Homo sapiens: one gene and its partner. Changing the gene in region 2 together with the main gene of any one other region gives a genetic interaction. Each region holds a gene or a part of one and is shown on either strand. Other genes may lie near its edges.

The links.
Region 1: changes in SNIP1 (region 2) and RTF1 together harm fitness less than expected from each alone (positive genetic interaction), as found in Homo sapiens cells (one large-scale study listed by BioGRID).

The regions. Positions count from the first base shown.
Region 1 is NC_000015.10:41,423,595-41,427,094, forward strand, and holds part of RTF1 (RNA polymerase-associated protein RTF1 homolog), read left to right. Parts: intron 1-3,500. UniProt on the Homo sapiens protein: Component of the PAF1 complex (PAF1C) which has multiple functions during transcription by RNA polymerase II and is implicated in regulation of development and maintenance of embryonic stem cell pluripotency.
Region 2 is NC_000001.11:37,540,794-37,544,293, forward strand, and holds part of SNIP1 (smad nuclear-interacting protein 1), read right to left. Parts: intron 1-3,500. UniProt on the Homo sapiens protein: Required for pre-mRNA splicing as component of the spliceosome. As a component of the minor spliceosome, involved in the splicing of U12-type introns in pre-mRNAs. Down-regulates NF-kappa-B signaling by competing with RELA for CREBBP/EP300 binding.

The sequences.
Region 1 (3,500 bases), on a different chromosome or scaffold from region 2:
CCGACCTCAGATGATCCACCCACCTCGGCCTCCCAAAGTGCTGGGATTACAGGGGTGAGCCACCACGCCCAGCCCTGGGAGCTTTAACAGTGAGGCTTTTAGGAAAAATACAAAACTGATCTTCAGACACAGGTCATATTGGTGTATTTATTTTTATTTATTTATTTATTTATTTTGAGATGGAGTCTCACTTTGTTGCCCAGGCTGGAGTGCAGTGGGACGATCTCAGCTCACTGCCACCTCCGCTTCCCGGGTTCAAGCAATTATCCTGCCTCAGCCTCCCAAGTAGCTGGGATTACAGGTATGCACCACCATGCCCGACTAATTTTTGTATTTTTAGTAGAGATGGGGTTTCACCATGTTGGCCAGGCTGGTCTCAAACTCCTGACCTCAAGTGATCCGCCCTCCTTGGCTTCCCCAGGGTGCTGGGATTTCAGGCATGAGCCACCGCATCCGGCCTGATTGTTCATCGTTCAACAGATGTATTAGACAGCGTTAGACACTAGAGCTATTGGGTGAACAAAATGGAAGCAGTTTCCACCTTCAAGGAGTGTAAAGTGGAATGAGAGAGAGATGAGGTGGGGAGATTGCTCAGAGAGAGTAATTTCCTTACAATTGCACTACAGGCCATGAAGCAAGGACAAGAATACTGTGGAAATATTAACCAGGGACCCTATTCTAGCCTGATGAGAGTGACATTGAAACAGACCTGGAATATGTGTTAAGGAGAAGCAGATTAGAAGACTGAAGAGTAAAGGGAAGAGTGTTGAATGTTCATGGTTGAGGCACCAGCATATATAAAAGAAATGAGACAGGAAGGACCTCGAACCCTTATGAAACTGAAAGAAGCACAGAGTGAGTAACATAAACTAGTTGCATAGTTGGAGAGAGAATAGTACAAATGAAACTGTAGAGGTAGATTCTGTTTTGACCCTTTGAGGATGGAGAAGTCAGTTTACGGACTACACTCAGCAGTAAAAATAAAATTGAATTGATAGAAAACATCAAATGTGTCATACATAGTAAATATAAGTGATGAAATTTGTGTGTCTCATATGTACATGTAGATGTATACTGGGTTGTGAGGTATAATTTATCTTCCTGTGGGCTGCGTTAAAAAGAGAAAAGTTTTTTGGCCAGGCGCAGTGGCTCACGCCTTTAATCCCAGCACTTTGGGAGGCCGAGGTGGGTGGATCATATGAGGCCAGGAGTTCGACCAGGCGGGCCAACATGGCGAAACCCCATCTCTAGTAAAAATACAAAAATTAGCCAAGTGCGGTGGCACACACCTGTAGTCCCAGCCACTGGTGAGGCTGAGGCATGAGAATCCCTTGAACCTAGGAGGCGGAGGTTGCAGTGAGCCGAGATCACCACTGTATTAGCCTGGGTGACAGAGAGACTCCGTCTAAAAAAAACAAAAGAAAAAAAGAAAAAAATTTAAAGCCACTGGAGGGCGTCAGCCTCCCCGGTGGCTGGGACTGCAAGTGTGTGCCACCACACTTGGCTAATTTTTGTTTTTTATTTTTGAGACGGAGTCTCGCTCTTTTGCCCAGGCCGGACTGCAGTGGCGCTGTCTCTGCCACTGCAAGCTTCGCCTCCCGGGTTCATACCATTCTCCTGCCTCAGCCTCCCGAGTAGCTGGGACTATAGGCGCCTGCCACTGTGTCCGGCTAATTTTTTTTTTGTATTTTTAGTAGGCACGGGTTTCACCATGTTAGCCAGGATGGTCTTGATCTCCTGACCTCATGATCTGCCCGCCTCGGCCTCCCAAAGTGTGCTGGGATTACAGGTGTGAGCCACCGCGCCTGGCCAATTTTTGTATTTTTAGTAGAGACTTTGGAGTTTATTCTGAGAGTAATAGGAAGCCATTGAAGGATTTTAAGTTGGAGAAGATTTTCAGATTTGCCTTACCCAGACTATTGTGGAGAGTAATATGGAGGGGGACACTAATGAAGTGGCAGAGAGAGGAGTCCAGATGAGAGATGATGGAGAACATAAGTTCCATTAGAATGGAAGCGCCAGGAGGGTAACCGTATGTGTTCACTATGCTGTCCCTGGCATCTAGAGCAGTGCCTATATGCAGTTGGCACCCAGTCAGTATTTATTAAATGAAGGACTGACTTGGATTGATATGGTTGTTATAGAGATGACAGATAGTGGAATTGGTTGGACATGATGTTCAGTATGTAGAACTAAAAGGCCTTGAAGACTGAGGACTGATTAGATGTTAGGATGAGAAGAGGAGTATTTAGGATTGATGCCAGGCACTGGCATGAGATGGGGAGTGCTGGAGGAGCAGGTTTAGAGGTGAAGATCCTGCATTCAGTCTGGGATATGTGGAGTTCGAAGTGACTATGAGATGTCTAAGTGGAGACATCAAGTAGGTAGTTGAAAATAACACTTGAGGGCCAGGCACAATGGCTCATGCCTGTAATCCCAGCACTTTGGGAGGCTGAGGTGGGAGGATTGCTTGAGCTCAGGAGTTTGAGATCAGCCTAGGCAACATGATGATGAAACCTGATCTCTACAAAAAAAAAAAATTTTTTTTGGAGGTGGAGTCTCGCTCTGTTGCCTAGGCTGGAGTGCAGTGACACCATCTTGGCTCACTGCAACCTCCGCCCTGGGTTCAAGCGATTCTCGTGCCTCAGCCTCCTGAGTAGCTGGGATTACAGGCACATGCCACCATGCCCAGCTAATTTTTTTGATTGTTTGTTTTTATTTTTTTTTTTGGGATAGAGTCTCGCTCTGTCGCCCAGGGTGGAGTGCAGTGGCACGATCTCTGCTCACTGCAACCTCCCCCTCCTGGATTCAAGCGATTCTTCTGCCTCAGCCTCCCGAGTAGCTGGGACTACAGGCGTGCGCCACCATGCCTGACTAATTTTTTGTATTTTTAGTAGAGACAGGGTTTCACCATATTGGCCAGGCTGATCTCGAACTCCAGACGTCATGATCTGCCCACCTCGGCTTCCCGAACTGCTAGGATTACAAGCGTGAGCCACTGTGCCTGGCCATTTTTTTGTATTTTTAGTAGAGATGGGGTTTTTCCATGTTGGCCAGGCTGGTCTCGAACTCCTGACCTCAGGTGATCCACCCCGCCCCCCCCCCCCCCCGCCCCCCCCCCCCGCCGGCCTCCTGAAGTGTTGGGATTACAGGCGTGAGTCTACTGTGCCCAGCCGCTACATATATATGTGTGTGTGTGTGTGTGTGTGTGTGTGTGTGTGTGTGTGTGTGTAATTTTTGTTTGTTTGTTTGTTTGTTTGTTTTTTAGGCAGAGTCTCACTCTGTTGCCCAGGCTGGAGCGCAATGGTGTGATCTCGGCTCACTGCAACCTCCACCTCCCAGGTTCAAGCAATTCTCCTGCCTCAGCCTGCCAAGCAGCTGGGATTACAGGGGCCCACCACCACGCCCAGCTAATTTTTGTATTTTTAGTAGAGATAGGGTTTCACCATGTTGGCCAGGCTGGTCTTGAACTCCTGACCTCGTGATCCACCCACCTTGGC
Region 2 (3,500 bases):
ACAATCTAAAGGCAGCCCAAATCTTGTTCTTTTTGAACGAAGTGCATGCAAAAAGTCTTGTAATTTGGACTTTGGCATTTAGAACAACATTTCCCACAGAAATAAGATTATGTCTGGTGGTTATGTTCCCTCGCAAGGCCACAAAGATGATATCCCATGCTGCTATTCAACTATAGCCCTAATAGCACAAGTCCAGGTCCACAGCCCTAAAAACAAGAGACTATTTAGTCCAGAAAGGAGAAGGAAAAATAATTCCCTCCTTTTCAGAACAAAGGTAACTATGGGCAAACTTACAGGGAAGAATATACAGAAAATAGAACTAAGAGTTAAGTAGTCAGGTACAAGATATGTAAAGAAAGAAACTAGCTTTCTCTCATGCCAAAAGTGAAAATATAATAGTAAGTTTTTAAATCCTACTTCCATAGTTAAAAAAAAAATTCAATACCTAGAAATAAACTTAAGAAACATGAAAGACATATAAGAAGAAATCTGTAAAAATTCATTAAAATAAATGTTTTTTAAAGATGTGAAGAAATGGAGAAACATACCATGATTTCTTGAAAAAGATAGCAATGAAAATCAGCCTAGGCCAGGCATGGTGGCTCAAGCCTGTAATCCCAGCACTTTGGGAGACCGAGGCGGGTGGATCACCTGAGGTCAGGAGTTCCAGACCAGCCTGACCAACATGATGAAACCCTGTCTCTACTAAAAATACAAAATTAGCCAGGTGTGGTGGCACATGCCTGTAATCCTAGCTACTCAGGAGGCTAAGGCAGGAGAATCGCTTGAACCTGGGAGGCAGAGGTTGCAGTGAGCCGAGATCACGCCATTACACTCCAGCCTGGGCAACAAGAGTGAAACTCCTTCTCAAAAAAAAAAAAAAAAAAAATTCAGCCTGGTAGAAAATGTTTGCAACACAAACCATACAGTAGTCCCAGGGGGATACATTTTAAGTATGGTGGATGGCTGAAACCACGGATAGTACCGAACCTGACTGCCATCAAATGCAACACATTTCTGTTCATGTCTTCCACCCATAAATGTAATGCCTTTTCCATCTTAACTAAGCACTTGTGAACTGTGGCTATAACTTTTACAGTATGAGGTACAACAGCAAAACTAGCATGAATTTCTTTTTCCTTCTCCACAATTTCACAATAGAAGATTCATTCTTACTATCGATCTTAGCAACTTCAATATATGATTTGAAAAGTTTTTTTTTGTTTTAATTTCTTTAAGTTGAGAACTTTCAACTTTTCGTTTAAAGGAAGCACTTTACAGCTTCTCTTTAGCATTCCTAATTGCCAAAATCACTACTATTGCATTTTGGGGCCACTACTAAATAAAATAAAGGTTACTTGAATCCAAGCACTGCAAACTGCAACAGTTTTCTGAAAATCAGGATGGCTACTAAGTGATGGACAGGCAGGTAGCGCATACAGCACAGATACACCAGACAAAGGAAGGATTCACGTTCCTGGTGGGACAGCAGAAGTTTATACCAAGTGACTCAGGATAGTGACCAATTTAAATTTTATGAGTTGTTTTTTTCTGGAGTTTTCCATTTAATATTTTCAGATGCAGAAAGTGAAACCACAGATAAGGGGAGACTACTGCATATTAATATATCAATAAGAAATAATTCAACAGAGAAACTGATAAATGGTCAGGTGCCAGTGGCTCACACTTGTAATCCCAGCACTTTGGGAGGCCAAGGCGATGGATCGCTTGAGCCCAGGAATTTGAGACCAGCCTGGGCAACATGGCGAAACTCTGTCTCTACTAAAAATACAAAAATTAGCTGGGCACAGTGGTGCATGCCTGTAGTCCCAGCTACTCGGAAAGCTGAGGTGGGAGGATCGCTTGAGCCTGGGAGGCAGAGATTGCAGTAAGCCAAGATTCCACCACTGCACTACAGCCTGGATGACAGAGCAAGACTCTGTCTCAAAAATAAAAAAAGAACAGAAAAATGAACAATTTTCAGAAGAAATAAATGTCCAAGGGCCGGGCACAGTGGGTCACGCCTGTAATCCCAGCACTTTGGGAAGCCAAGGCAGGAGAACTGCTTAAGCTCAGGGCAACATGGCAAAACCCCATTTCTACAAAAAATACAAAAATTAGCCAGGCACGACAGCATGCACCTGTAATCTCAGCTATTTCGGAATTTGAGGTGGGATGATCACTTGAGCCCAGGAGGTCGAGGCTGAAGTGAGCTATGATCATACCACTGCAGTCCAGCCTTGGCAACAGAGACCCTGTCTTGAAAAAAAAAAAAAAAGAATTACATGTCCAATAAATACATGAAGATATGCTTACCCTAATAACCAAAGCATCAAATTCTAAAAGAAATATGAATTTTCTCTCCTTAATTAGTAAAATTAAAAAGATCAATAATATCTAGAGTCAAAAAAGAAGGTACAGGAAAAATGGGTATTTTCAGCCACTGCTGGTACAGGTATAAACTAGCATAGCCTATTTAGGTCAATTTGACATTATTTAATCAAAATCTCATCAACCACTAATGCCACTTATAGAAATCAATCCTACAGAAATACTAGCAGAAACGCACAAAGACATACATATGAATGTGTTTACTGTAATTTCGTAATTTAAAAAAAAAACTGGAAACAACCTAATGTCCTGCAATGGTAGAATGGTTAAATTATTATCTATTCATACAAAGGAATACTTCACAGCCATGAAAAAGAATGAGATAATGACATAGAAAGATATCTAATATATTGTTAAATGGGAGGGGAAAAAAGAGAAGGGGCAAGTTTCACAATAAGACCACATATTTCTATATATAGACTTGGCAGATGAGCTACTTGGAGAGATGTTCCCACTATAATTTAACTAGATACTTATTAAATTTTTAATGCACTGTTGGGCTTTCAATAAGCAAGGCAAAATCTCCAATGAGAAAAAAAATCTCCAAAGGGGGGTAAAAAAAAAAAAAAGATTTGAGCCCTAAGCATAAGCTCAAATACTAAAGAATACTAGACACACACAAGGAAATGGAAACAAGCCACTGAGCATGAGAGGCAGCAGAAACAAGTCTTATAGGCTGGGCATGGTGGCTCACGCCTGTAATCCCAGCACTTTGGGAGGGCAAGGGGGGGGGCAGGTCACTTGAGGTCGGTCAGGAGTTCAAGACCAGCCTGGTCAACATGGTGAAACCGTCTCTACTAAAAATGCAAAAATTAGCCAGGTGTGGTAGCGCATGCCTGTAATCCAGCTACTCGGGAGGCTGAGGCAGGAGAATCACTTGAACCCAGAAGTGGAGGTTGCAGTGAACAGAGATGGAGCCACTGCATTGTAGCCTGAACGACAAAGAGAGACTCCGTCTCAAAAAAAAAAAAGAAACAAGAGGCCGGGCGAAGTGGCTCACGCCTGCAATCCTAGCACTTTGGGAGGCTGAGGTGGGTGGATCACAAGGTCAGGAGTTCAAGACCAGCCTGGCCAAGATGGTGAAACCCTGTCTGTACTAAAAATACAAA